Homo sapiens: one gene and its partner. The protein of the gene in region 2 interacts with the protein of the main gene of each other region in a pairwise test. Each region holds a gene or a part of one and is shown on either strand. Other genes may lie near its edges. The genes, in order: GLRX3 and BOLA3.

What was found.
Region 1: the proteins of BOLA3 (region 2) and GLRX3 interact in binary tests that used the Homo sapiens proteins (3 or more experiments, as listed by UniProt).

Annotation. Positions count from the first base shown.
Region 1 is NC_000010.11:130,142,780-130,146,595, reverse strand, and holds part of GLRX3 (glutaredoxin-3), read right to left. Parts: intron 1,386-3,816; coding exon 1,277-1,385; intron 1-1,276. UniProt on the Homo sapiens protein: Together with BOLA2, acts as a cytosolic iron-sulfur (Fe-S) cluster assembly factor that facilitates [2Fe-2S] cluster insertion into a subset of cytosolic proteins.
Region 2 is NC_000002.12:74,137,650-74,141,465, forward strand, and holds part of BOLA3 (bolA-like protein 3), read right to left. Parts: intron 1-3,816. UniProt on the Homo sapiens protein: Acts as a mitochondrial iron-sulfur (Fe-S) cluster assembly factor that facilitates (Fe-S) cluster insertion into a subset of mitochondrial proteins. Probably acts together with NFU1.

The DNA of each region.
Region 1 (3,816 bases), on a different chromosome or scaffold from region 2:
CCCTGCTGCCTAAACCAGTACTAAGTCCTGAATAATATCTTTAACGTGCTAAACCAATTGAGTTAATCCACAGTCAAAACTACAGCTTTCCTAGCACTCATCCACTCAAGAGAGACAGCAGGAATGTAGGAGTACACATAACCAGAGTGAAAAACAAAAGAGGCAAGGAAGAGACTGACTGGCTTCCATCTTCCTCTACATTCTGAACAGGTTAGAAAGACTTTCACCTTCTCCCGGAGGTCTGCCTTCATCTAAACCAAGATAGCAACTTCCTGTTCCCTGGTCCCTAGCAGCATTTACATACCCCTTCCTGAATTATTTTCTACAGCACACCTAGCTTTTCAATGACATAATTTGTGTTACTATTTTAAATGCCTTAAAACCACAGTTACCCACAGGGAACTAATTTGTCTGCCTGTGCTCTCCAAAACTCCAGCCCACAGCCACCTTGACATTTGGTAGTCATGCCTCACACCCGAGGATGATCAAGGAAAAGTGTACATTTGGCCAGGCGTGGTGGCTCACGCCTAATCACAGTACTTTGGGAGGCCAAGGTGAGCAGATCACGAGGTCAAGAGACCAAGACTATCCTGGCTAAGATGGTGAAACCCCATCTCTACTAAAAATACAAAAAATTAGCTGGGTGTGGTGGCATGTGCCTGTAGTCCCAGCTACTCGGGAGGCTTAGGCAGGAAAATCGCTTAAACCGGGGAGGCAGAGGTTGCAGTGAGCTGGAGCTGCACTCCAGCCTGGGCGACAGAACAAGACTCTGTCTCAAAAAAAAAAAAAATGCAAAATTATTTTAAGATTTTTAAGAATGATGTGCAAAAATAACAGATCCCACACCAATTATACATATTTGGAATTCCATACCACTCCATCTTTATATTAGTTAATAAAATCTAATTTTTTATTTTATTTATTTATTTATTTAGAGACAGCGTCTCGCTCTGTCACCCAGGCTGGAGTGCAGTGGCACAATCTCGGCTCACTGCAATCTCTGCCTCCCGGGTTCAAAAGATTCTCCTGCCTCAGCCTCCCACATAGCTGGGATTATAGGCACCCGCCACCACGCCCAGCTAATTTTTGTATTTTAGTAGAGACAGGGTTTCACTATGTTGGCTGGGCTGGTCTCAAACTACTGAACTCAGGTGATCTGCCCGCCTCAGCCTCCCAAAGTGCTGGGATTACAGGTGTGAGCTACCGCACCCAGCCCTAATCTAACCCATAAATCAGAATTAAATTCACAAAAGACATGACATTGAAATATAAATACCTTCACAAATGAAACTTGAGGGAGTTCTTTAGCTAACTCTGCCATAACTTCGTTCATCTGTGCACACTGTGGAGCCCATGGTGCCCAGAAATGGACCACAAGGAGGGACCTGTAAATCAATTAAATGCATTTATTTAAAATTATACCAATTTTGGAAATACACAAATACTGATATAAATTACCAAAAAGAAAAAAAAGAAAGCTTTAAAAGAACCGTCTGAAGTTTTTCATATTGCTAGAATTTTGTTGTATACAACACTGGAACATAAAAGCACTCTGCAAGGTCTTGAGACTCTTTCAGATAAATTTTCAATTCAATGATATTTCAAGTGAAGCCCATTTGAAGTAGATCTGAATATTCATCCACCTCAATTAAAAGTCATGTAAATCACTGTTGGTGGGAGTGTAAATTAGTTCAACCATTGTGGAAGACAGTGTGGCAATTCCTCAAGGATCTAGAACCAGAAATACCATTTGACCCAGCAATCCCATTACTGGGTATATACCCAAAAGATTATAAATCATTCTACTATAAAGACACATGCACACATTATGTTATTGCAGCACTATTTACAATATCAAAGACTTGGAACCAACCCAAATGCCTGTCAATGACAGACTGGATAAAGGAAATGTGGCACATATATACCATGGAATACTATGCAGTCATAAAAAGGAATGAGTTCATGTCCTTTGCAGGGACATGGATGAAGCTGGAAGCCACCATTCTCAGTAAACTAACACAGGAACAGAAAAACAAACATTGCATGTTCTCATTCATAAGTGGGAGGTGAACAATGAAACCACACGGACACAGGGAGGGGAACATCACATACCAGGGCCTGTCAGGGGGTGGGGGGCAAGGGGAGAGAAAGCATTAGGACAAATACCTAATGCATGCAGGGCTTAAAACCTAGATGATGGGTTGATAGGTGCAGCAAACCACCATGGCACATGCATACCTATGTAAGAAACCTGCACATTCTGCATATGTATCCCAGAACTTAAAGTAAACGAAAAAAAAAAAAAAAAAGCCAGGCAAATCAACCATATTTTCAGACCCCTGGGCAAAGTGGAAACTGAATTTCTGTATTAATGGCACAATGTTTGTGAAAAATGGTTGTAGACACATTACTAATAATATCATTATTTACTTTTTAAATGTGGTATAGTGATGGAGAGACATAACCGTGACCATAGAAACAGCAGTAAGTGTTGAAAATGAAGGCATGCCAGTGCAAAACGAGGAAAAGAATAGAACTGCTTTTCACAAAGACTTTTTTTTATACTTTTTAATATTATGCTACAAAAGATTTTTCTAGACCCAGAGCAGTGGCTCACACCTGTAATCCCAGCACTTTGGGAGGCCGAGGCAGGCAGATCACTTGAGGTCGGCAGTTCGAGACCAGCCTGGCTAATGTGGTGAAACCCCAACTCTACTAAAAGCACAAAAAATTAGCCGGGTGTGTTGGTGCATGCCTGTAATCCCAGCTACTCAGGAGGCTGAGGCAGAAGAATTGTTTGAACCCAGAAGGCAGAGGTTACAGTGAGCTGAGATCACACCACTGCACTGCAGCCTGGATGGCAGAGCAAGACTCTGCCTCAAAAAAAAAAAAAAGATTTTTCTAGGCCAGGCAAGGTGGCTCATGCCTGTACTCAGCATTCTGGCAGACTAAGGTGGAAGGATTACTTGAGCCCAGGGGGTCGAGGCTGTAGTGAGCCATGATCATACCACTACACTCCAGTGTGGGCAACAGAGCAAGACCCATTTAAAAAAAAAAAATTCTAAACATTTATAGTATGAACACACAGAATATATTAATAACTCAGTATCTATTTTAGTTAGTTTTCACACAAAATTATCTTGGCAAAGATATCTATGGTCATATCCAACTAAAAAATCCTTCAGTTTTATGGAATTCTGTTCAAATATAATACCACCTCCCAAAAAAATCTGAAAAATCACGAACAGAAATATGTTCCATGGCAAAAAGAACCAAGGACAACTAACCTATGGGTAAGGAAAGGAATAACAAACTGTAAAAACTGATCAAATAATACCAGCGAGAAGAGAATAAGCCTACAATAAAGTGTCAGGAAAGCAGAAGCAAAGAGCAGCATGAGGATTTCGAAGGTAGAAGGGGCAGGATTTGGTGACAGATAAGGCAGTCTACAGCTGGCTCCAAGTTCTGGCTTAGAGACTGATGGCTAGTGGTGGCACTATGCCTCAAATCATAGTGCAGAAGCTGCCAACCTGAGGAAAGGAAGTTTAATGGGTTGTTAGTATGATGTCTAGAGCTCAGGGAAGAAGTCTGCACCTGATATACAGATTTGGGAATCAAGAAAGGAACAGTGCCAGCACCACACCGCAAAGGGTTACAGAGGGACACAGAGGAGACCCGAGGTCAGCGCCTCAGGGGGCTTATCAACATTAAGTTAGGACAGATGGAGGAGAAGGAACTTATGTAGTAAAGCAGAGAAGGGGTCCTAGGCGGTACTGGAAGATTAAGGGGTCCTAGGCGGTACTGGAAGATTGAAGG
Region 2 (3,816 bases):
GATATGAACCCAGGTATCCTGAGGTCCTGGCCATACCTGGTTTCCATCATGTTCCTGACTTGCCCTGATCCGGGAGCTCCTGTTGTGTTGGGGGACAATGAGCTGCCCCACTTGGCCTACACTGCACACCCTCCAGCTCCACAATCAAGTGCAGGGCCCTCAACTCTGCGGACAGGCAGAAATGTCCCTGGAAAAAGCCTCATATAATCACTGGGCGAAGGTCCCTGGGCCACTTGCTCTCTGCAGGCGTGGAATGCTCCCTAGAGACTGTGTCTGTGCCTGGACCACAACCAGCCTCTCCTCCTTACATCCACCTTGGCTGGGTGAGGGCCCAGTCACACCTTCATGTGACTGACCCTGGACAGAGGAACCTTCTGGGCTTCACCCACTCAGGCCCTGCGCACTCCCCCTCCCTGATGCCTTCTCCCTGCTCTCTGTGCAGCCCCTGAGGGCTTCCCAAAACACACTACAGTCCCTTACAGCCACACAGGGTCTTAGAGATCACCTGAGTCACTCTACAGTTAAGGAAACTGGGGCCCTGCTGGGGGAAGTGACTTGGCCGAAGTCCCATGGGTAATAAGATGCAGCTTGGATAACCATTCTTAAGCACCTGCTATGCCCACAGCACTATAGTAGGTGCTGGGGACACAGAGGAAAAGGCGTGGGAAAGTAATGAAAGAGAAAGTAGCATTAAGTCCAACACAAATGGGCTGAATGTGGGCAGCAGAGGACTGCCAGACTCAAGCCAGCACAGCCCTGCTTCCGGTGTTCGAGGTGAGCTACTGCACTGGTGACTGGGGTGGACGCACAAGGGCCACACACAGGAGGCAGCCCTGGAGCTGGAGCCAGAGGTGGAGCAGGCAAGAGTGAGAGGGCATCTGCCCCAGGACAGCAAAGTGAGGAGAGGCTGGGAAGCTCCCGTGATTCACTGAGGTAGGCACATGTCAGGGAGACTGAGGCAGATCACATGAAGAATGGGCAATCCCAGGCTAGGAAGACTGGACTGGATTCTGGGCAACCAGGGGAGCCACGTAAAGGCTCTGAGCAGGGGAAAGACATTGGTGGAGGCGCCTTAGGGGAGGGCAATCCCCTAAGCTGGAAAGAGGCCGGAGGCAGGGAGACGGCAACAGCTGTTTAGCAACTGCCTTCCACGTGGCAGGCACGACGCTGGGCACCTGTGGTCAATGCCTCATGCAATATTTGCCAATATGAGGCTCAAATCTCACCTCTGTCCACCTCAAAAGGCAACTCAGTGATCACCGTGGCTACCTACCTACTCTACCCTTGCTGACACCTCCCCAGGATGGCAGGAGGACAGGTAGGGAGGTGCTCCTGGTACAAAACCCTCAACATCTAGGCCTCCTAGGGCGTGGCCCACAGCAAATGCCCAGTAAGTATTTCCCAAGAGAAGGCTGACGCACTGGGCCCTGGGAGAGGCTGAGCCCCGCGCAGCAGGGTCCCAGAGGAACGAGTCCATTCCTGAGGGTGCCGACAGGGGGCGCCCCCTCCAGGGAATCCCGCAGGGACAGTCTGATGGGAAGCTCAGGAGGGATGCCAGTATCGGATGGGTTGGGCGACCTTTTCAGGCCTTTTGGGCAGAAAATTCTGACTCTACAGCACCAGGATGAACACTACTACGCATAGGGTGAGTAGGCAAAATAGATGAGGCAAGCTTCACCCCGTCAGGACACCAGGCCCCCACCCAAACAGCCTGGGCATGAGAGCATCTGGATGGGGCACCTACCCCACCCCCACCTCACTCCTGAAGAGACCAGCTGGCCCTGGGAGTGGAGTCCAGTTACCACCTTGCCTTCCCCTTGATTCCAGGTCTCTGCCTCCTCCTAGGGCAGTGCCTGTCAGAACCCCATTCCCAACAGCTGTCCTGAGCAGGGCAGCTCCAGGTCCCGGCTCAGACCCTGCCGGCCAACAGACTTGTTCCTGAAGATTTTCATTTTCATTCTTCTCATGCGACTGTCAAAGCCAACATCTCCAGACTTAAATCATCTAAAATTGCCTATGACCAAGTCCATATATTTTAACACAAGTGTCAGCCCCCTAAGAATGTACTGTGGCCAGGCTCAGGGGACCCCCTCATGTCAGCTGCCTGCAGACATCCAGTGTGGAGCTGCATGACCCCCCCAAGTCCTGAGCCAGAAGGGCTGTTCTGGCTGGGGGCAGAGGAGAGGCCTCTAGAATAACTCAGGATGCAGCTGCTCTGGGCACAGTGGCTCACGCCTGTAATCCCAACACTTAGGGAGGCCGAGGCAGGAGGATCGTCAAGGAGTTCAAGACCAGCCTGGGCAGCATAGTGGAACCCCATCTCTATATAAATATAAAAATGTATATTTTTAAGGTTGGGCATGGTGGCTCATGCCTGTAATCCCAGCACTTTGGGAGGCCGAGGCAGGTGGATCACCTGAAGTCAGGAGTTCGAGACCAGCCTGGCCAACATGGTGAAACCCCATCTCTACTAAAAATACTAAAATTAGCCAGGTGTGGTGGCGGGCGCCTGTAGTCCCAGCTACTTGGGAGGCTGAGGCAGAAGAATTGCTTGAACCCAGGAGGCAGAGGTTGCAGTGAGCCGAGATAGCGCCACTGCACTCCAGCCTGGGTGACAGAGTGATACTCTGTGGGAGGGAAAAAAAAGAAGTATATATTTTTAAAAAGTGCCCCAATGTCAGGATGTGAGTTCTCCAAAACAGAATGCCTTTCAGATACTAAAACATAATTTCCATGGGTAAGCCAATAAGAAAACACAAGCCAACTCTCCTCACTCTCTGCAAACTCTCAAGAAATACTGACTGGGCTCCTTCCATGTGCCAGGTCCTTTGTTAGGTGTGGGGGACACAGCCCCGTCCTGCAGTAAGCCTGCTTTCGAGGGGGAATGAAAGACAAGTGACTGGGCTGTCTACTCAGGAAGTGTGAGGAGAGGCACATGTTGCTATAGGGGGCCAGAAGACACCTTAATCCCAAGACCGTGAGGTGACACTCCCCCAAACTGTGGGAATCACAGCCCTTCCCCACCCCAGACTGGTGCAGGTTCCTTCCAGTGTTGGAGATGACAATGATGGTGATGGCGGTCACATTTATGGAAGGCTTACTATGTGTCGGGCAGTGTTGTCAGTGGTCAACGTGTACTTTATCACGAATCCTCACAGCAACACTTTGAAGCAAGTACTGTTACTCTCAATTAGGAAACTGAGGCAAAGGGTGAGGTTGAAAAACTTGCTCAAGGTCACATGGCTAGAAAGTAGCAAAGCCCAGATTTGAAAGTGGGAAGTCCAATTCCAGAAACTGCTTCCTTAACCACTTGTAACTGTGGTTTCAGGCCAAGGGACACACTCAAATTACCAGCACCTATGGGTCCAGTCACACCAGGTGGCTTGTACAGATCTGAGAATAAAACCCAAAGTGCCACGGGTTGGGGATCATCTGGCCAGCCAGGTCTTCCCTGTCTTGTCTTCTGCCTTGATTCTGACCCCAGAGATCACATGGGACTGCAAGAGTTTCCGGGAGGGCTCAGTGATGGAGCACCCAGCAGACCACCAGCATGCCTTAGGGCTGTAGGGGTCACATCCACTGCAAAGGGCTACGTTCCATGAGAAACACAAAGATGGATCCCAAAGGGCACTGGTCCACAAAGGGCTGACAGGTTGCAGGGTCAGACAGCAGAGATGTCCGTTTTCAGGACACAAGACGGAAAACACCGACAGCCAAAAAAGGGGGCCGGGGAGGGTGGGGGAACGGCATTCATTCCCTGCTGGGGAGGGAGGGGAGGCAGCATTTGAGCTGAGTGGAGGACGGGAGGAAGGGCAA